Regions from separate parts of the Homo sapiens genome. Here regions 1, 2, 4, 5, 6 and 7 are each reported to be linked to region 3. The links are microRNA targets in miRTarBase. Many come from high-throughput screens and were not tested one by one. Region 3 holds a microRNA gene; each other region holds the end of a gene's coding sequence.

The links. Region 3 holds the annotated microRNA hsa-miR-377-5p (AGAGGUUGCCCUUGGUGAAUUC, at 955-976, opposite strand). A microRNA usually pairs through its seed, bases 2 to 8, with sites in the 3' UTR of a target mRNA and lowers its output. Matches are read on the target gene's strand: a 7mer-m8 pairs with bases 2 to 8, a 7mer-A1 pairs with bases 2 to 7 and ends in A, and an 8mer does both.
Region 1: miRTarBase lists INTS7 as a target of hsa-miR-377-5p. The part of its 3' UTR that is shown has no 7-base or 8-base seed match.
Region 2: the mRNA of AP3S2 is a reported target of hsa-miR-377-5p. Seed matches in the 3' UTR shown: 7mer-m8 at 1,314-1,320.
Region 4: the mRNA of MRPS14 is a reported target of hsa-miR-377-5p. The part of its 3' UTR that is shown has no 7-base or 8-base seed match.
Region 5: the mRNA of MPZL3 is a reported target of hsa-miR-377-5p. Seed matches in the 3' UTR shown: 8mer at 1,124-1,131, 7mer-m8 at 1,426-1,432 and 7mer-A1 at 2,447-2,453.
Region 6: miRTarBase lists SNRPD1 as a target of hsa-miR-377-5p. Seed matches in the 3' UTR shown: 7mer-m8 at 590-596.
Region 7: the mRNA of CLCC1 is a reported target of hsa-miR-377-5p. Seed matches in the 3' UTR shown: 7mer-m8 at 2,802-2,808.

Annotation. Positions count from the first base shown.
Region 1 is chr1:211,939,248-211,942,247 of GRCh38, reverse strand. INTS7 (integrator complex subunit 7) reads left to right here. Exons shown (of 20, transcript NM_015434.4): 20 at 137-1,845. The coding sequence ends at 424. Among named protein-coding and RNA genes, the nearest start is that of INTS7, 95 kb to the left of the region's middle.
Region 2 is chr15:89,833,057-89,836,152 of GRCh38, reverse strand. AP3S2 (adaptor related protein complex 3 subunit sigma 2) reads left to right here. Exons shown (of 6, transcript NM_005829.5): 6 at 510-3,096. The coding sequence ends at 638. ARPIN-AP3S2 (ARPIN-AP3S2 readthrough) reads left to right here. Exons shown (of 10, transcript NM_001199058.2): 10 at 510-3,096. The coding sequence ends at 638. It overlaps LOC124903552 (a long non-coding RNA gene), which reads right to left and starts at 244. Exons shown (of 2, transcript XR_007064754.1): 1 at 1-244.
Region 3 is chr14:101,059,936-101,063,031 of GRCh38, reverse strand. MIR377 (microRNA 377) reads right to left here and starts at 982; the gene lies at 914-982. It overlaps MIR496 (microRNA 496), which reads right to left and starts at 2,459; the gene lies at 2,358-2,459.
Region 4 is chr1:175,012,209-175,015,304 of GRCh38, reverse strand. It overlaps MRPS14 (mitochondrial ribosomal protein S14), which reads left to right. Exons shown (of 3, transcript NM_022100.3): 3 at 454-2,347. The coding sequence ends at 636. Among named protein-coding and RNA genes, the nearest start is that of MRPS14, 9.7 kb to the left of the region's middle. RefSeq lists a silencer at 2,446-2,646.
Region 5 is chr11:118,227,396-118,230,491 of GRCh38, reverse strand. It overlaps MPZL3 (myelin protein zero like 3), which reads left to right. Exons shown (of 6, transcript NM_198275.3): 6 at 572-3,096. The coding sequence ends at 598. Among named protein-coding and RNA genes, the nearest start is that of JAML, 3.9 kb to the right of the region's middle.
Region 6 is chr18:21,628,708-21,631,803 of GRCh38, reverse strand. SNRPD1 (small nuclear ribonucleoprotein D1 polypeptide) reads right to left here. Exons shown (of 4, transcript NM_006938.4): 4 at 1-2,742. The coding sequence ends at 2,666. Among named protein-coding and RNA genes, the nearest start is that of SNRPD1, 18 kb to the right of the region's middle.
Region 7 is chr1:108,931,919-108,935,014 of GRCh38, reverse strand. It overlaps CLCC1 (chloride channel CLIC like 1), which reads left to right. Exons shown (of 13, transcript NM_001377458.1): 12 at 73-390; 13 at 2,514-3,096. The coding sequence ends at 345. GPSM2 (G protein signaling modulator 2) reads right to left here. Exons shown (of 15, transcript NM_013296.5): 15 at 470-3,096. Among named protein-coding and RNA genes, the nearest start is that of CLCC1, 30 kb to the left of the region's middle.

The sequences.
Region 1 (3,000 bases), not on the chromosome of region 3:
GAAGCAAGGATGATAGCAGTACCTAATTTTTTATTGTCTGCATGGTCTAAATAAGCTCTTAGAACAGGGCCTAACTCATAGTAAGCACTGAAGAAATGTTAGCCATTGTTGTTAGTTAACAATTGTTTCATTGCAGATACCCATTGACAACATGACCAATGAGATGGAGCAAAGGGTTGAACCTCATAATGATTACTTCAGTACTCAATTTCTGTTGAACTTTGCTATCCTTGGAACACACAACATTACAGTGGAATCTTCTGTGAAAGATGCCAATGGTATAGTATGGAAGACTGGTCCCAGAACTACCATATTTGTAAAATCCCTGGAAGACCCTTATTCCCAGCAAATTCGCTTACAACAGCAGCAAGCCCAGCAGCCATTACAGCAGCAGCAGCAACGCAATGCCTACACACGGTTTTAACCATGGAATGAATGCACTGCAGACTCTCAAGAGATCAATCAAATTGCCAGAAACAGTTTGGTTTTTCATATGGAATAAGTATTAAAGTTACAGTGTAGTTCATTTATTCATTGATTTTTGTAATGTAATATTCTGGAAAAAATTTTGTTTTCTTAAAAATTTTGTCTGACAGCTGGGCGTGGTTGCTCACGCCTGTAATCCCAGCACTTTGGGAGGCTGAGGTGGGCGGCTCACGAGGAGATCAAGACCATCCTGGCTAACACAGTGAAACCCCGTCTCCACTAAAAAATACAAAAAAATTAGCCAAGCATGGTGGCAGGCGCCTGTAGTCCCAGCTACTTGGGAGGCTGAGGCAGGAGAATGGTGTGAACCTGGGAGGCGGAGCTTGCAGTGAGCCGAGACTGTGCTCCAGCCTGGGCGACAGAGCGAGACTCCGTCTCAAAAAAATAAATAAATACATTTTGTCTGAAAAATAACTGGGATCCTGGCCAGAAAGATTGTTCTTTCTTGTTTTATTATTAGTTTTTTCTGTTGCCAAGCTTTTTTTTCTTTCAAGAATAGTCACATGTTGAGATCACTGAATTGGTAAATTTGACCGCTACTCTTCCAAAATACATCATTTGCTGCCTGACTTAGACCTAGGATTCTGAGTTGTTCATTGGGAGGTTCTGACCAGTCACTACAAGGTTTATCCATGGTAGCAGAACCTGAGTCCTTCTGTAGATGGACTTGAAAGTGTTCCGTGCAACATCCAGCCTTCTGGATTATGAAAGCCCACAGTCTAACAGTATTGAAACATCCTGCTGTATTAGTTCAACCACATATTTATCTCTTCCTGTGCTAAAGCAGTCTTTATTATTTTCATATTTAATTGAAACAAAGAGCAGCTAGCAATTTCATAGAAAATTAATTTGTTTTTTCTGATGTGTCTGCAACTGTGTATAATACAGACATTTCACATTGTTTCCAAAAGTGAAGAACACTCATTTAATATCTTCAATGTTTTAAGTTAGAAGGGGTGGATCTTTTCCTTTGGTTGGTGATTGGTTTGGTTTATACTTGATGAGTTATGCTAGACTGATTGTTTAGAGAGAGCAGTCTCTTTATTACACAGGCTCAGTTTGTTGGGATGCTCAGGGAACAGAGTTTTCTGGTTAGCCAGAAAACCCCCTTTTTTCCTATTTTAATTCTGGTTGAAAACCATGATAAAATAGACTTTCTTAGCACAGTATGGTAGATATAACTTAACTGCTTTTTGATTGGGGATCATTTAGGGCTTCAGGATCACGATTTCTAAACATCAGGGATCATATGGTTGCAGATGCCGATGCTATAAGTAATTTGGCCGGATGCAGCTCCTAAGGTAAAGCAGGGTACTTTCCCTGGAATTTCCTTTTTAAATAAATATCTGTTTCTTTGCTTGTGTTTTGCCTTTTTCTCTTCAAAGTCAACATTAATTCAAAGGAGAATGGAGCTTAAGATAAAAAATAAAAAGGGGTTGTTGTTTTTTTTTTCTTTCTTGTCATGCGGCCTCTGGGACTGAGAAGTGATTTGCAACTTGGGTCTCTCCAAGATTGCTTGCCTTCATGAGCACAACCCATTGTACTGCTAACAGCCAGAACATTCTCATAAAATGTGTACAGATCTACAGTGTCCACGGTTGAATGACATCTCTTCAGATGCAGCCCAGTTGTATGAGGTTCACACAACCTACACAGTCATCTCAGCACCTGGGAACACGTGCTTAGGAAAAATTGCCAGAGCAGTGCAGAACCCCTTGTTCTTTTACCAGGTGTGGAAACAGCTGAATCAGAAAGCCTGGGTTTCACTCTTGGTTCTGGTGAATTAGCTGTGTGACCAAGCAAGTCACTTTACCTCTACATCTTAGGGGTTTTTTTTTTTGTCTGTCAAGTGACTGAATTAGACTGGTTTTCTGGATTCCAGCCTAGAGTTGTATTATCAAGTGACTGAAAGACTAAAAACAAACAAAAACATTTCTTAAATTGGAGATCTTTTTTATTTGTAATTAAGTGGCTATTTTCAGGGTTAAAGTTTACAATGTGGATTTCAAGCTTCTGGTGCCATTCAAGGTAGATTTCTCCAAAAAAGAAGCAAATCTTGTAAGCCATCAATTCCCTTTGAGAACTTCCCAAATGTTATGTTCTTAAAAGATAGGTTTTGATAGCTATGTTTATGAACTTTTTAACTTGGTGTATTATGGGCTCCTGGCACAAACTCAGAAAGGAATTTTTTTTTTTTTTTTTTGAGACAGAGTCTCGCTCTGTTGCCCAGGCTGGAGTGCAGTGGTGCAATCTCAGCTCACTGCAACCTCTACCTCCCAGGCTCCGGTGATTCTCCTGCCTCAGTCTCCCGAGTAGCTGGGATTACAGGCATGTGCCACCACGCCTGGTTAGTTTTTATATTTTTTAGTAGAGATGGGTTTCACCATGTTGGCCAGGATGGTCCCAAACTCTGGTGATCGCCCGTCTTGGCCTCCCAAAGTGCTAGGATTACAGGTGTGAGCCACCGTGCCTGGCCAGGAATTATTAAAATAAAAGCAAGTCCAAGAAGTTCAG
Region 2 (3,096 bases), not on the chromosome of region 3:
CTCAAGATTGTTTTGTTGGCTACTTTTGAGGAATAAGGGGGGAAAGTTAAAACTTCAGTTGTGTGTGCTCAGTTTGGAATTTTTCTAGGCATCCTTCACCTGTTATTTTGTTTGTTTGTTTGTTTGAGACAGAGTCTCACTCTGTTGCCCAGGTTGGAGTGCAGTGGCGTGATCTCAGCTCACCGCAACCTCCGCCTTCTGAGTTCAAGCGATTTTCCTGCCTCAGCCTCCCTAGTAGCTGGGACTACAGGGGCCCGCCACCACTCCTGGCCAATTTTTGTATTTTTGGTAGAGATGGGGTTTCACCATGTTGGCCAGGCCTATCTCGAACTCCTGACCTCAGGTGATCCACCCACCTCGGCCTCCCAAAGTGCTGGGATTACAGGCGTGAGCCACCACACCCATCCTGCTTGTTTGTTTTTGTTTTTGCTTTTTTTTTTTTTTTTTTTTTAGCATTAAGCAGATAACAGTGAGAATTTGTCTCATACTCGCCTCTCATTTCTTCTTAGGGTGGCCTTTCAGCAGCCCCTGCGCGGGCTGTGTCTGCTGTGAAAAACATCAACCTGCCAGAGATTCCTCGGAACATCAACATTGGCGATCTCAACATCAAAGTTCCCAACCTGTCCCAGTTTGTCTGAGGATCAAGTATTGGCCTGAAATAGAGTCCTTAAGACAAGCAAAGACAAGCAAGGCAAGCACGTCTGGAAACAGAACCCATTTTGAGCCTTAGAAGAGTCAAGCCTCAGGACCTGGAAACTTTGTGTCTGGGGAAGACTGTTTGGCATGGAATAGGGAAGGGATTCCTATTGACACTGCTCGGGTGCACCCAGTTCTCACATGTGCAGTCATGCCGTTCTCTGATGCATACGGCCACTGCAGATGTGAGGGGCCCTGCCTTCCTCAGTAGGGAGTCAACATGCCCAAGTCATTTGCACCTTTACCTCTCACATGGATGCTCCCAAGGGTTAGGGACTGCATTGAGCAGGCCCACCTGCTTCCCAGAACCTCCTCACTAGGGCTGAGCACCTTCTCTGAGTAGAGTCTTCATCCTTAGCACCACAGACTTCTGAGGTCCTGTGCCCTTTACTTGCTGGTGAGGTGTCATAGGTAGAAAAGGGCTGGCCCTTCAGATCTGGGGGTGTGGTGAGTGGCAAGTAAGGGCAGAATTTTAGGAGAACCAGAGTCACCCGCTGGCTCTACTGAGATTGTTACACCCAGAATCCTTTTGTGTTTTTTTGTGGTTTTTTTTTTTTGAGGTGGAGTCTTGCTCTGTCACCCAGGCTGGAGTGCTGTGGTGCAATCTCGGCTCACTGCAACCTCTGCTTCCCGGGTTCAAGCATTTCTCCTGTCTCAGCCTCCCCAGTAGCTGGGATTACAGGCACCCACCACCATGCCCAGCTAATTGTTGTATGTTTAGTAGAGACAGGGTTTCACCATGTTGGCCAGGCTGGGCTCGAACTCCTGGACCTCAAGTGATCTACCCGCCTTGGCCTCCCAAAGTGCTGGCATTACAGGTGTGAGCCACCGTGCCCGGCCACCAGAATCCTTTGGTATAGCCAAGCCTTTTGGTTACCGCCTCATGAAGAATATGCTTCCCGCATTGTCCTAGTCCCAGTTGTATTCTCACAGGTGTTATGTGCAGGACACAATCCAAATCATAAACCTGGCTCATGCCCAACACATTTCTGCTAATAGGGAGAGGGACCCACCACACACCCACACATGCCAGAGGTCCCTCCTCACAGAGGAGAGGGCCTGTGTCTGTAGAAGGTTAAAGCTGACAACATGTGAAACATCCCAGAATTATGACTCTTCCCAAGTTTAAAATACATTCTCCTCATGAGAGCAGAAGGTTTGTTGCTGTGTTGTGAATGATGAGCTGCCTCCATAGGGAACCCACTGCCACCTGGGCCAGCTTCTGGAGCATGAGAACCTGAGCCAGGGTCACCCTTGTGGGGCCTGGACATGACGCACGCTGGCTGCGACTAGGAGCAGGGCTGCCTCTTCTCCCTCCCCAAGGTCTGCTTGTGGGCACGCTCTGTTCCCTCAGGTGCCATTCTCCCAGGGCTTAGGCGCCCATAAATGTTCTTTCTGTGGTGGAGTAGGGCCTCCTGCTTCCATACTGTCGCATGGGCTAGATCTCAGGTGTGGTGTTGAGCCACCTTAAGATGAGGGCTGCTTCGCAGTAAAGTTTCCAGCCTGGGCCCCTCTTGGGCCTTCTGGCTGGGGACCCTCAGCCTCCTGATGCTGTTGCAGGGCAGGTCTGAGAGGGTGCCCAGCAGCACCCGGTGTCAGGGCCACCTTGTTTTCCATTTTTGAACAGCGCTCCCTGTGGTTTGTGCCCACTGCTCAATACAGCCTCCGATCCTCACTCTTGAAAGCTCCATGATAAGCACAGAGATGGGCAGTGTGGGTCAGAAGGTGGGCCGCTTCCTGTGGAAGAGGGAAGTGTAGGTGAATAGATATCAAAACCCCTGATGTCATTCTTTTGAGGGGTTGGATTTTCTTTTTTCTGGCAGACATTTCAGTACATTCACATTTCTCTCACATTTGCTGAATGTGAGATCAGAATAAAGGAGATCGGCGTTTATTTCGTACCTTCTGTAAGTTGGCATGAGCAAGATCATTCAACTGTCCTTACAACAGGCATTCTTATCCCCATTTTGCAGATGACGAAAGTAGACCCAGCTCCAGTAACCTTCCCTTAGATTACACGGGGCTGAGATCTGAGACTGTTCACTTGACTCCACTGTCCTTTTCTTTCCTCGCTGCTTAAGATGGCTTCTCCCAATGTTATCATCTTCTTTTTTATAGATAAGGAAACTGAGCCTCAGAGAGTCTGACTTCTCACAAACCGTGGTCTAAATAGGCTTGATTTTCTAAGGTGGCCAGTGATCATGTCATAGAGTATAAGAGCCAAAGAGTCGTCTGTGTCCCTCCATTTAACTGATGTTGAAGCCGAAGCCCAAGGTGGTAAATGTTATGTTGAGGGTCACAAATCCAGAGCCACATCCCTCTTCTTGAGTTCGTTTGTTACGTGGTTTAATGCATTACTGCAGGACAGCCCTTATGCTAGATTTCCTGGGATAGCCTAGA
Region 3 (3,096 bases):
AATCCAATTCCCTGTTTAGCTTTCCTGACCGCGCTGTTGAGCTGTTTTCATTTCTCTTATTTCCCTTGTTATTTTCCCCAAATCATTTTCATTAGGATCAATTTTTTCCATTTAAAAATCTGCATGAAGATTTGATTCCTCAATGTGTTCTTGTCTACATCAAATATCACTGTTTATCACCGCCGCCACCGTGAATTTCCTTCCATGGCTGCCACGTCGGCAGCTTGCTATTTCCCCAGGTCAAATGTCACAGCTGAAATGTTGTCAAGAAAATTGGATTCCTCTGCCAATTTGTAGTCAACTGAACACATTTAGCACTGTGCCGTTTCAGCTGTTTTTAGTTTTATTTTGTGTTGATTATTTTTATCAGTATTATTTAATACAAATGGGATGAGATACTGATAGCCTCTATTTGTTTCATAACCCAGGAGAAAATTGGGAACAATGTTTGGTTGGGGGATAGAAAGAGAAAGATAGAGACAAGGAAAGGTGCAGAAAGAAGCACAGTGCTTGTGAGCTAGACGGGGGTCTGGGGCTGCAGACTCGTCACAGACCCTGCCAAGTGTGAGCTCTTTGTGTATCCGCGAGGTCAAATACCTTCCGAAAAAAAAATGGTGGAGTCAAAATGTCTTTGGGATCAACACAGCCAAAATGGTGATGTAAAGAGACAGGGTCCAGGGTAAGAGCTAAAGCCGACGCGACACCAACGCCATCCTCCCCGGGCCGCGAGCCCCGCCCCCATCATGAATGAAGCTTGTGTTCTCTGAGCGACATCTGTTCTCATCCACCGCAGAGGACCGCAGAGGGCAGACCACCCACGTCTACCCCGTCCATTCTTGCTCACGGGAGGGGTGTAGATGCCCCTGAGCTTGCCACTGGGTCCCGGAAGCCATCCCAAGCAGGATTTGATACTCAAACAAAAGTTGCCTTTGTGTGATTCAACATAAATAAAGCGAATTCACCAAGGGCAACCTCTGCTCAAGGGTCAAACATCAGCACGGGCAAGAACACACCGAGATGCCTCTTCACCAAAGGCGGCATTGCCTGCGGGACCTCCCTGCTGACTCCAGCTGCAGGCTCGCTGGCTTGCTGGCTCGCTCTCTCCCCTCTTGCTCTCTCTCTCTCTCTACCTCCGAGAAGCCCCCCAGGCAGTGGTCAGAACATGGTTGGTCATGGACCAGCTTCTGTAGCCCTGGAGCAGGCAGTGGGGGCGAGGCTATGCACACACACATCACAGGTCAGCCCGAGCTAGAGTCAGCCCCTGGTCACCTACCCTAGAGGGGCTGGAACACCAAGGTCCACCTCCAGAGCCGGTATCTCCTCTGGAAGTCTCTGAAGCAGGATTTCACACAGAGAAGGGGGCTGCCAATGAACCATGTGACCGTGTTCAGTCCAGCCTACAGGGGTTTGAGGGAGGACCCGACCTGAAGGCTGGCGACTCCTCGTCCAGCGCAGCATCCTCAGAGGGTGGGTGGGGCTGCGTCACAGGGACAGCACAGGCTCAGGTGACTGTACTCCATGCACTCCATTCCAGGAGGCCTCAAAGAGAGTTCAACCAAGAAAACAGGTCACGCTGCCTATTCATTCATTCAGCATCACACCTACTGTGCACATCTGGCGACACAGCACCAGGCAAAACAGACAAGGACTCTGCCCTCAGGGAGCTTCCATTCTAGTGGCGAGAGGACAATGAGTGCAGATGACATAACATTCATATAATGACCATCCTCAGAAACAATGCTTATCCTACAGCCACGTGCCAGACGCTGTCTAGACACTTCACAAAGAGCACGTTTCCACTCCGCTGTTAACCCTGCTTTACAGAGGAAGAGACTGAGGCCCAGAGAGCTGATAGGTGAAGGGATTTTCCAAGGGCACACAGCTGGCAACATAAGGTAGTAATAAATGCTATTAACAATTCTCGTCTTGCAGTAGGAATAACCGAGTCGTGCCATGGAAATGTGTCTTTAAACAACATTAATTCTCACTGCTGAGGAAACCCCCTTCACCCCTTGCTTCCCAGAGGTCACCCAGAAGATAAGGTATTTGAGGGCGTAATGTGGATGTCTTCCATTCAGCCAGGAGTTCCTTTCCCTAAAGTGTGCCACACAGCCAAGATGATTTCACACCTAAAAAGGTTGACTAAATGTGGTTTATTCACTGACGAGTCTTCAAGGATGCGACTAGAAGACCACCATGTCAACTAAAACGTCAGCATCATTTCGGGGAATTCCTCCTAATGATGGCCGGGATATGAGCCAAGTGATGTAAGTCACACAGAGAGCACCTGTCATGCGGAGGTGATCCACTTCCTTACCCTGCGCAGGTGCCGGCTGGGCTTTCCCCTCGTGACGTTTCCCAAGAAGAATTGAGTACCGAAAGGAGATTGGCCATGTAATACTCATCATAAATAAAATGAACACACCATGGACAACCTCCATTCGAGTACCTGACTTGGGTGCTCGCTTCCAGCGCGTCCCAGCAGCAGGCCTGAGGACGGACGGGATACTGAGAGTCAGGAAGGTGGCAACACACCACCCACGAAATAAGCTCTGCGGTCCGGGCCGCACTCCATCCCTTACTTGCAATTAGCACCTCTTGCAGGAAGCCATTCAGGGAGGGAAGTGCCACAGCAGAGAGGTCTGCAGAGCACCATCTGTGATACATGAAGAGAGGGCAGCAGGGAAGACAGCAAGACGGTGTCTTGTCAAACATGCAGTGAGCCGATGAGGGAACTGCCGCCTCTTTCGAGGAAACTGCCATGGTAAGCAAGCAGGACGCCTGCAGGTGCACGACCCACCAAGAAGAGTGTGCACACTGTCAGCTTCGCCGTGCGTTCAGGCATTCAGACACCAGTTCTAGTTCCTAAACTCGGCACCACCCGAGGGTGCTTTAAGGCTAGATTTAATGCTTTCAAAAGAGTCCACTATGTAGGATTGGTCAAAAAATAAATCGAATGCATCATGGAAGACCTCTCCACCAGTACCACAGAGTAGCTCTGATAGGAAAAGCTCCACTTCTTCCCCAAAGGTGGCACCATCTCTAGAAACCTCCCCAAGGACGGGGCACACACAGGGTTAGGGCCAGGGCACACTG
Region 4 (3,096 bases), not on the chromosome of region 3:
AATGTAGGATGGATAAATGAATTATGGTACTCATGCAATGAACATTACCTGCCAGTGGCCAGGCGCTGTGGCTCACACCTGTAATCCTAGCACTTTGGGAGGCAGAGATGGGCGGATTGCCAGAGCTCAGGAGTTTGAGACCAGCCTGGGCAACGTGGTGAAACCCCGTTTCTACTAATAATACAAAAAATTAGCTGAGTGTGGTAGTGCACACCTGTAATCTCAGCTACTCGGGAGGCTGAGGCAGGAGAATCACTTGAACCCAGGAGGCGGAGGTTGCAGTGAGCTGAGATTGTGACATTGCACAATCTAACACCCACAGCCTGGGTGACAGAGCGAGACTCTGTCTCAAAAAAAAAAAAAAAAGAAAAGAAAATTACCTGCAAGTGAGAAGGAGCAAAATACATGTGCAACAATGTAATGTGATCTGTGTAATAATGTGATTTCCCTTAGGATGTGGCTGATGAAGAAATTGCTGCCCTCCCCCGGGATAGCTGTCCTGTTAGAATCAGAAATCGGTGTGTTATGACGTCCCGTCCGCGTGGTGTGAAGCGGCGCTGGAGGCTTAGTCGTATAGTCTTCCGTCACTTAGCTGACCATGGGCAACTTTCTGGGATCCAGCGAGCGACATGGTAAATGAGCTCCAGAACCTATTGAGCTTGCAGGGAAGCCAAGCTTGCAGTTCCAGCAAGCAAAGATTTTTTTTAATAGACCAAACCCTAATCTCTACAGGGGCCCAGTACAGTTGTTTGGCCTACCTGATGCTATCTCTAAACTACTTTTAAAATGAAGACATTTGGGTGTTTCATGTCAGTGAATTATCTTTTCTCTTGGACTTAACAAACATACTGTTCCCATACATAGTACAAAGAGTAGCATAATAAATATTTTCTGTGAATGTTTTTTATACCCTCCTTTTAAGTTTAATCTTTTAGTAACATATAGGGGTTTTTGTATTAAGAGCATTATTTCATAAAATGCTATCTTATACATAATCCAACTAATTGACATGTAGCTCATGTATGGCAGTTTGTAATCCTGGACTAGCTTTGCTGACCTGCAGAGCTCCCCTTAACTATTATTGTTAGATAAACAGATTGGATAGCAAGGCTGCTGTTCTGGATTATCTAATGCTCCACTTCTTCTTGTGATGGCTGAACAAAAGAACCACTAAGTGTTTTCTTGTCCATCCTTAAGGGACTTTAAAACAAATTATGCCTCTTTAAGTCCTTGAAAGTCTCCATCTAAAGAGGAAAAGTTTGTTGGAACAGTATATATTCCCTATTTTTATGTTTATTTAATCCATAACAGAAATGAGTAAGGGTAGCACAAAGTTCTCATTCAGTAACTCAACAGTGTGATCATCAGCCCAGTGATAAAAATATACATACTGAATGGAAGTACCTACTTAACATCAGGAAAATATTCCTGGAGAACTTAATAAATCAGGAGGTGAGGGGTGAGATTTTTTTCTGCACACAGAGGGAACAAAAGCACAAAGAAGCAAAGGCACTCTGTAGCATCAGAGAACCACAGTCACTTCAGTAGATCAGAAATATGAAGCACAAGACAAGGCCCGTATTGTGGAGGATCTCACAAATCATGTGAAGGAATTAAGACTGACATACCAGGTATTACAGAGTTTTAAGCACAGGAATGACATCATCAGTTTGTAATACAGGTAAGTGACAGCTGTGTGGCAGATGGCCATGAGAGGAAAAAGCTACAGGCAAGACAACCAGTTAGGAGGATGTCTTAGTTGTTGAGGAAGATGAAGGCCTGAACTAACATTGTGGTATTAGTAGAGGAGAGAGGACAGATTTTTAAAGTTTTAGGAAAGAAAATTGGGCAAGACTTACAAGACTGATTATATCTAAGAGGTAAAGATGGTTCTCTGGGTTCCTGATAAAAGTGTCTAGATAGATGGTAGAGGGCAATTCCAAGAGGGCAACTCCAAGATAGAAAATTTGGAAAAAGAACAAATTTAGGGGAAACAGAAGATAAGCGAGTTCAGGTTCCAGTCATGCGGTGTTGGAGATGCCTGTGTCATCTGATGAAGACTAGTACGCAGCTGGATAGCAGAGTCCGAAACTCAGGTGGAGGTGAAGTTATGAGGGAATTATCACAATCTAGTTTGGATTCATATTTCTTAAATATGTATGACAACTTACCAACTGGAATGTTCTAGCTAATATCTCAACTTAGAATCCATCTCACTACCAATGGGCAAACACTTGTGTTCTAAAGTTACTTGCAAGTAGTTTATACTGCCAACTTGATATATATACATGCTATAGTTTGAACATTTTGTGTACTTCCAAAATTCACATTAAAATCTAATCCACAATGCGTTGGTATTATTAAGAGGTGGGGCCCTTAGGGGTGATTAGGCCAGGAGGGCTCCACACTCATGGATGGGATCAGTGCCTTTCTAAGAGGGCTTGAGGGAGAGAGTTTGTCCCTTTTACCCTTCTGATACTGCGAGAAGGCACCGTACTGGAAGCAGAAAGCAAGCCCTTACCAAACACCAATCTGCTGGTGCCAAATCTTAGACTTCTCCAGCCTCCAGAAGTGCAAGAAGTAAATATTATTTATAAATTCTTAGTCTATGGCATTTTGTTACAGCAGCAGGAATAGACTAAGACAATGTGTTGATAGGTTTAGGGTCATGTTTTACTTTTTCAGTCATGTTAAATTTTAGATGGTTCTAAAGTCAAAACTCTAGAAAAAGTTAAATTCACAGAATAGCTTCCATCCTCATCTCCTTCCTTCCCCTGCTAACAATTTTTATTAGCTTTGGGTTTACTCGTTTCTTTTTGAAACATAAGCAAATACACCTATGTGCATACATTCACATTTCTCACCCTTTCTTACACAAATGTAGTGGGTATACCATAAATGTTCTGCACTTTGCTTTTCCACTTACTCTATCCTGGAGACCATTTTACGTTATATAGAACTCTTCATTGTTTTGTGACTTAAGTACTCCCTCATGTGGATGCACCATAATACATTCCTGTTAAATAGACACGAGTATTTTTAATCTTTTGCATATAGCATTCCAAATTTTTCTAAATGTACCTTTCAGAGCCCAGA
Region 5 (3,096 bases), not on the chromosome of region 3:
AGTGCTTATGAAGTGCCAGGCAGTGCTAAGTAATTTACATATATTGCCTCATTCAATTCTCATAACAGTTCTATGAGGTGTATTTTTATTATCCCCATTTTACAGATGAGGAAACTGAGGCTTAGAGAAGTTAATAACTTTATCCAAGGTCACACAGCCACAAGAGGTGGAACTCAGTGGTAGACTGACACTTAGTCTAAATTCCTAACCACAATTTTGCACATTTCTGCAAGAGAGTGAGGAGAGGATCGCTGGGGTGATTCCACTGACACTTGTTTTGCTAAGAAAGGGTGCGGTAGGCGGGCATCTTTTCTTGTGTGTTGAGGTTCTAAAAAATATTCACCAAGGGAAAGGAAACCACTAGGGCTTCAAAGCAGAAATTAGCCCAATAGACACCAATTATATTGAGGTCCTGTGAAGCTCCGTGGGAATTTAGGTGTATTGAGTCAGTGGCATTTCACTGTGGCTGTCTCCCCAAGCCAGGTTCCATTTGGAGGATCCTAACATGTGGTCTTTGCCTAAATTCCAACTCTGGAATTGTGTTTCACACCTGCTGTTTTGCTCCCTCCAGGATTCAGACTATGAAGAGACATATTGATGAAAGTCTGTATGACACAAGAAGAGTCACCTAAAGACAGGAAACATCCCATTCCACTGGCAGCTAAAGCCTGTCAGAGAAAGTGGAGCTGGCCTGGACCATAGCGATGGACAATCCTGGAGATCATCAGTAAAGACTTTAGGAACCACTTATTTATTGAATAAATGTTCTTGTTGTATTTATAAACTGTTCAGGAACTCTCATAAGAGACTCATGACTTCCCCTTTCAATGAATTATGCTGTAATTGAATGAAGAAATTCTTTTCCTGAGCAAAAAGATACTTTTTGATTCATCTTTGCTCTGGAATGTATTACATGTTTTCTTCCAACTGTTTGAAGGAGAATTTTGAATGTTTGCCACACCGCTGATACCCAAATAATTTTTTAAATGAAGTGGAGCTTGTGGCTTCCTGATGTGTCACCAGACAAAATATTCGCTTGGGATATGTATTCTTTGTTTTTTGCTCCATGTACACTTTCAGCTGTGAGTTAGTATAGGGCGTATACTTACCGGTTTAATGACCTCAACCTCAGTTGTGTTTGGATAACTTAGGGTGTATACCCTTAGTTTCCTTAGAGTTGGTAGGATCAAGTCATTGGTTTGCTTTGACTGGGTTTTTAAAGTATTAAGTACAGTGTCATCAATTTACAGTTAAGGAAAGGAATCGTGAAGTAGAAAAATTATTTTCTTTAGTCTTGCTGGTACAATTTGGGCTAAGGAGTCTTTGTTATTTTCTGTCTTGCTTTTTTTTTTTTTTTTTTTTTTTTGAGGCAGAGTCTCACTCTGTCGCCAGGCTGGAGTGCAGTGGTGTGATCTTGGCTCACTGCAACCTCTGCCTCCTGGGTTCAAGCGATTCTTGTGCCTCAGCCTCTCGAGTAGCTGGGATTACAGGCATGCGCCACCACACCCAGCTAATTTTTGTGTTTTTAGTAGAGACGGGGTTTCACCATTTTGGCCAGGATGGTCTCAATCCCCTGACCTCGTGATCCACCTGCCTCGGCCTCCCAAAGTGTTGGGATTACAGGCATGAGCCACTGTGCTTGGCCTGTTATTTTATTTTCTTATAACTACAACTTTTCTTCTTGAATTTTCAGGTCAGAGGCAAGAAAAACTCTTTACAGGTTTTTAGTGGGGGGCTTATGGAGTATTTCAGGAGTTCTTTGCAAATTAAATCATCTTTTCACTTGTATTGTTTTTCAAAACTTTGTTGATTTCTAAAATGTGCCAACTGTGAGTAAACTATGGTATTTGCAAGTGGTTTTTACATAATATTTGAGATGAGGAAGTGAGATTGTGCATGACATACTTCTCCTTTGTATTCTCTCAGTGCCTTACAGCAGGTTACTCCATTCTGCTATGACAACTTGTTTCAAATGTTAATTTACATAGGATTTTTTATAAGCCATTAAGGCATATGTATAGTATATCAGTAAAGATGGATGGTGCATATATAAATAGTCTTCTGTAATAGTGATTGGATTTACTTCTCAATTATGAGAGACAAAAATTATCCCCTCACCTGTCTCTATTCTTTCAACAGGTTGATCCCTTTTCATGATTTTTCATTAGGTGGTTCAGGAAGTTTCCATATTACAGCGCTTCAGACTGTATATGTTAGTTTAAAAATCACTTTTCTCTCTCTCAACTTCTTTCTTTTTTTTTTGAAGACTTAATTTAAAAAATTTGGGTTGTTAGATCCGTATCATAGATTTGGCCTAGCCTCTTCTGTTAACCTAGTCCACAGATGAGCGAATCTGGTTAGTTGAAGGACATTGTGATTTGACTCTGGTCACGCGAGGAAGTAGAAGGGCAAAGACAGGACCGGCAGTTTACATTTCCAGTGGTTAAACCTCACGGTACTTTGGGACTGCTTGTTAACTTTTGTGGTTGTCTGAGGCCAATCTAACGTGACCATTTCTGACACCTCAACAGAGAGAGGAAAGCAACTTGAGCAATGAGAGTAAATAACTTGGGCTCTCAGAGATTTGAAGATAGAGATCTCATTGTGAGGGGGACTATTTTGCAGGTCCTCATTTCTCCAAGAAAGAGATGGTGTTACAGGAACCCACTGAAAGCCATATCCCATTAAATGAGGAACTAATTTTGGCTGGGCCTTCTTGTAATGTCCTCGCAGGTGTGTTGTGAAGATTAATGCAGGGTAGTATGTTTGTAGATTGACACCTAGTCTAAACTTGAGGTAATTGGTGCTCTGTGAATACTCAGTCGTGTTCTTTTATAGCCTTAATCATGATTTGAACTAGTCCCTTGCTTTTTAAATGACTGAATGAAGTCCTTCGTGGTAAGGGAGTACGTTGATAACTTAGTTTACTATATGGGTTTGTGGTCGCATCCCAGTCATCAGCTGCTATCATTTTCCTTCTTCATCCCTTATACTGAGATTTGGGTTACAGCTTTTTATTCTTCGAAGGATCACAAAGCAGTGTACAGACACCTGCCTTCTTTAAGGATGAAAGGAAGATAAAGTGGTCTTTTTTTG
Region 6 (3,096 bases), not on the chromosome of region 3:
CAGGTCAGAAGATGGAAAAGAATGAAATCCAGTTATTTATTCCCCCAGCTTATTAATTAATGAAAGGTATAGGCCGGGGACGCACGGTGGCTCACGCCTGTAATCCCAGCACATTGGGAGGCCTCGTGCAGATCATGAGGTCAGGAGAACGAGACCATCCTAACACAGTGAAACCCCGTCTCTACTAAAAAGACAAAAAATTAGCTGGGTGTGGTGGCAGGCACCTGTAGTCCCAGCTACTCGGGAGGCTGAGGCAGGAGAATGGCCTGAACCCGGGAGGCAGAGCTTGCAGTGAGCCAAGATCGCGCCACTGTACTCCAGCCTGGGCAACAGAGCAAGACTGTCTCCAGAAAAAAAAAAAAAAAAAAAAAAAAAACGTGTGGAGAAAAATTACATATTGGTTGTATCTTGTCAAGCCAACTCACCTTTAATATATTTACTATTAAAGAATTGTCTTAAGTCTGGCCAACATGGTGAAACCCCGTCTCTACTAAAAATACAAAAAAATTAGCTGGGTGTGGTGGCGCACGCTTATAATCCCAGCTACTCTGGAGGCTGAGGCACAATAATCTCTTGAACCCGGGACGCAGAGGTTGCAGTGAGCCAAGATCGCACCACTGCACTCCAGCCTGGGTGACACAGCAAGACTCTGTCTCAAAAGAAAGAAAGAAAAAATTGTCTTAATCATCATGAATTTCATACATCCCTTTTTGGATCATAGAACCTGTAATACAACTGGGTGACCACTGCCAATAATTTGTGGGGGAAAAAACGCTAATTACTATATAACTTCAATGACTTACAAAAAAAAATTATCAACTGTGGAAAAATCAAAAAGCATTTGAATTTACTTGATGAGGTAAGATACTTAAAAAAATATATATCTAGTATTTATTTATACCAATATATACATTTATATATCTAATATATATGACAGGTACATTCTACATGTATACTAATATATCTATTAGTATATATTTATATATTAGTATAAATACATATATATATAAATACATATATATATCTCTCTCTCGATTTTTTTTTGAGACGTAGTCTCACTCCATCGCCCAGGCTGGAGTGCAGTGGCACAATCTCGGCTCACTGCAACCTCCGCCTCCTGGGTTCAAGCAATTCTCCTGCCTCGGCCTCATGAGTAGCTGGGATTACAGGCGCCTGTCACTGCACCTGGCTAACTTTTGTATTTTTAGTAGAAATGGGGTTTCACCCTCTTGGCCAAGCTGGTCTTCAACTCCTGACCTCGTGATCCACCTGCCTCGGCCTCCCAAAGTGCTGGGATTACAGGCGTGAGCCACCACACCCAGGCTAAACTTTTTTAAGGTAACGATCTTTGCAGAAAATTTCTTTACTTAAAAAAAAAAAAACTCACATACATGATGAAAATACAGATTTAAGCCACCCACATCCTCAGTTGTTTTCCTTAGCATATAAATACTTCGTAGTAAGCTTTACAAAGAACTGATGCACTGAGAGACATTTTTTCTGAGCTTAGCAAATCAAAAACAATTTTTAAAAGTCCTTATTAACAATTAGAACAGTTTTGCTGTCAAATAAAGTAGGTCTTTTCTCTTTTATTCTCAAAGAACCCCTTAATAAAGGAGGCACTGACAGGTACATTACACATTAATAGGAGATTTTAACACTGCTCATAACTGATAATCTAGTGACCATTAACTCCAAGTTATAACTTGGAAAACATAAAACTATATCCTATTAAGAACTGATTAAAAAGCAAAAGAAACAAAAGTAAGACATTAGCAGCTAGACAACAAAGCAATGACCCTTAATTTAGAAGACAACTTTTTACCAGGTACCTAAGACTCCGTGGAGTAAAACTCAGGAAAGGAGAATCAATTCTAGACCCCATCCCATAAGGACTTTAGTTTCCGAAATACCAAAACAAACTTCTTACTTCCCCTGTGGGTAGGTGCCACAGAATGAAGAGTAAAGCAATAAAATGCATATTCAGTGCATGTGAAGTAGAAGGGTATATATCCTATATATATTGTTAAGTTTAGCCTAAAGTCTCTTTACATATCTCAAGTTCAGCTTAAAGGTTTCTCAGTACATAGAACTGTAGCCTAACTGGACGTGTAAACAGACGGTACCCTACTCTTGTGGCAATCACTAAGTTTCAGCCAACCAAAGACAGCGAACTGTTCAAACCATATTCAAATAAGGCAAACGCTGAACTGTAACTAATCCGGCTGTTGCTGTATCTCACTTCCATTTTCCATACATCACTTTCCTTCTGTCCATAAATCTTCAACTATGCAGCTGGGCTGAAGCCTCTGAGCCTATTATGGTTCAGGGGCTACCTGATTTGTGAATTGTCCTTTGCTCAATTAAACTCTGCCAAATTTAATTTGTCTAAGGCTTTTATTTTAACCTTATTCATCATAAAAAGAAAAAGAAAAATTTTAGTTCAAAAACTTAAAACCTGATCAACTAAAAATGAAACTGCCCAGTAGAAATGCTTAGCTCTCACTGTGGTAATTTCGTGAATGTGGAGGAAACTACTAAAACTTTGATATACTAAATAGACAGCTCTGTCCCACATTTATGTTTATTAAAAACTGACATAAACAAACACAACCTGTACAAAAAATATCCCAAATCTCATATGACTTTGAAATCTTGAGAGACATTATCGCCTAGGACCCCCTCTTCCTCTGCCACGGCCACGTCCTCTTCCTCTTCCTCTTCCTCTGCCTCTTCCTGCAACTGAAGGAAAAGAAAAACAAACCAAGTTCAATTCTCTCCTGCACCAATGTTACCTAGACACCACAAACAACATTTACACACACACCTTTCCCTGTTTATAGCTCTTTATTAGTAGCTACAGTAAATAAAGTTTAACTAGCTTCTGTTAAATGTGTTAGACTTCAGATTCCCTCCACCCCCCAACACATTATCATGCAGAACCAATAACTAAAGGCCTAGGGAGATTATTATTTGTTTCATTTCAATTTATTTACTAAGAAATGTGTCAAATTTAAAAATACTTTTTCTTTATATCATGTCTCAAATTCACCATAAAATGATTTGAACCTCACAAAAAAAGGGAAGATATATATC
Region 7 (3,096 bases), not on the chromosome of region 3:
TTTTTAGATATGTTTGATTACTAAGACTTCACATTACATTAAACAGTTAAAATGTAATTTTGTACTTTATAGCATAAATCACCTGTTTTGGATACAAAGCCCAAGGAGACAGGTGGAATCCTGGGGGAAGGCACACCGAAAGAAAGCAGTACTGAAAGCAGCCAGTCGGCCAAGCCTGTCTCTGGCCAAGACACATCAGGGAATACAGAAGGTTCACCCGCAGCGGAAAAGGCCCAGCTCAAGTCTGAAGCCGCAGGCAGCCCAGACCAAGGCAGCACATACAGCCCCGCAAGAGGTGTGGCTGGACCACGTGGACAGGATCCGGTCAGCAGCCCCTGTGGCTAGAGGAACACCAGCACAAACGACAGCCTCAAGTCTCCTTCGAGCTTTGTAAAGTATACTCTTCACTCTCTTTCTCTTCTCTGCAAGAATTCTGATTACTACAAAGGTGCCAACTTCAACATTCACATTTCAACTTCAACATTCACATTTTTACTGACAATTAGAATTAACAAACACGTTATATATGTAAAAGCTTTTCATTTCATCTTCTCTTTGATATTTACATCCCATAAAGTAAGAAGTGTTTATTTTAAGATGAACAGATGACAGGCATCACTGATTCTGGATAGTTAAGGAGGCCAGTTTGAATTGGGGACATTGAAAAAGAAATTTTATTGTTACAGGCACTTACGGGAACCCACTAACCAATTTACATTGCCTAGTGAATCCACTAGAGTTAAGGCCACCCACTTGATGCCTCCAGCATCTTCATGCAGCCATGGAGTATCGTTACCAGGATCAGTCTGACTGACACCTCAGCTTATCTCTACGCAGGCTGCCCACAGGTCACTGTGGCTGTAGTTTCATCTTTTCCACAGCTATTACTACGCCTGCATCCTTATTGTTCCTTTTACTTTGTTTACTTAGAGAAAACTGAAGACTGCCAGGGCAATTTAGATAACATAGCTTGTTATATTGGTAATCTGTTTTACAGAGTCAGTCGACTGAAAATGACTTTATTCTTTTCCCCCACCAATTGAAGTGCATGGGCTTTTTATAAAACCTATTTTTTGTGTTACTCAGAATCCTAGCAGTGGAGACTATTAGATATTACCATATCTTAATTCATATTATAGCAAATCATATTGTCTTGTCCATAGGAAGTTTGCATTTTTAGAGATCTATACATAGAGAATACCATGATGAGGAAGAAGAGAGTTGGGTGTCTTCCTTAACTGCAGACAGGACATCAGTCAGCACTTTACATTAGTCTTTCTGATTATCAAAAGCATTCCTCATTTTAAACTTTTTAAAAAGCAATGCATAAATTTTGTACCTGTCCTTAGCAGACTTCACAGACATCAGGTGTCCTTTGTTTTAACCATATTCACACTACAAGTTATGTTCAACTGCTTACTAAAAGTGATACCAGTCAGGAATAAAGTCTTTAAATTTTCATGCAGATATTTGTATCCCAAGCACTTGCTTTTTTATTTTAATATGAAATGCAGAATACACATTTTTGGATCCAGGAAGTGTTACTTACGTGCCTGTAACAATGTAATTTTAGGCCAGGTGCAGTGGCTCATGCCTACAGTCCTAGCACTTTGGAAGGTTGAGGGAGGATGATCGCTTAAGTTCAGTTGTTGAAATGCAGAATACACATTTTTGGATCCAGGAAGTGTTACTTACGTGCCTGTAACAATGTAATTTTAGGCCAGGTGCAGTGGCTCATGCCTACAGTCCTAGCACTTTGGAAGGTTGAGGGAGGATGATCGCTTAAGTTCAGTTGTTGAAATGCAGAATACACATTTTTGGATCCAGGAAGTGTTACTTACGTGCCTGTAACAATGTAATTTTAGGCCAGGTGCAGTGGCTCATGCCTACAGTCCTAGCACTTTGGAAGGTTGAGGGAGGATGATCGCTTAAGCTCAGTTGTTCAAGGCTATGTACTAAAAATAAAACTAGCCAGGCATGGTGGTACACGCCTGTAGTCCCAGCTACTTGGAGGGCTGAGGCAAGAGGATCGTGAGGTGGCAGTGAGTTATGATCGAGCCACTGTACTCCAGCCTGGGTGACAGAGCAAGACCTTGTCTCAAAATTATACATGTTAATATATTCTAGTTTAATATTGCAAACATCTTTAGAATTTCATCAGAAACGTGATTTTTTCTAAGAAATGCAAAAGGATTTTAGGATTTTTAACACAGAGGACATGTTTAACAAATGAATCCTGACAGACACCTGCAGTTTAGAATAAATTTGTGAACATCCATGCGTATAAAGTGTCCTCTTGGGACAAGACATGTTCACACTGACTTGGGGAATATGCCCCCAAGGTGAGAGCTGTCTTTTGAACTGTGATCTGACTCTGAAAAGTAGTGAATGCCCCAGGTGATAGACTGTAACTGTGAGTGGAATTAATGCTGCTTGCATGCCTTTTAATCCAAAACCAAATTCTTTTAAAAAATTTTTAAATAAAATTTCACCTTTGTATTCTTTCATTACAGATATCCATTTGGGGATGAAGTCTACTTTGACAGCTAGCAAGGCGACATGCAACTGTTGTTGAATGATGACAGCAATTCAGGAAAGACTTAAATATGAAAGCAAATTGAACACATCGGGTGTTTGTTATCAGAAAAGAGATGAGATGAGATAAGACTTGTTTATTGACTAGCCAATATGTCATTAAAATTAAGGTTTATATTGTGAAGCTTTTTTGAAATTTTACTTTTTTTTGAGAGTTTTGCTCTGTCACCCAGGCTGGAGTGAGGTGGTACAATCTCGGCTCACTGCAACCTCCACCTCCCAGGTTCAAGAGATTCTCCTGCCTCAGTCTCCCGAGTAGCTAGGATTACAGATGTGCATCACCATGCCTGGCTAATTTTTGTATTTTTTAGTAGAGATGGGGTTTCACCATGTTGGTCAGGCTGGTCTCGAACTCCTGACCTCAAGTGACCCGCCCTTGTCGGCCTCCCAAAGTGCTGGGATTACAGGCATGAGCCATTGTGCCCAGCCTATATAGTGTGAAGCTTTTAGGAAAATCAGAACAGGGTAGACAGCTGTTAAAAACAATGTTTAAATGGAATA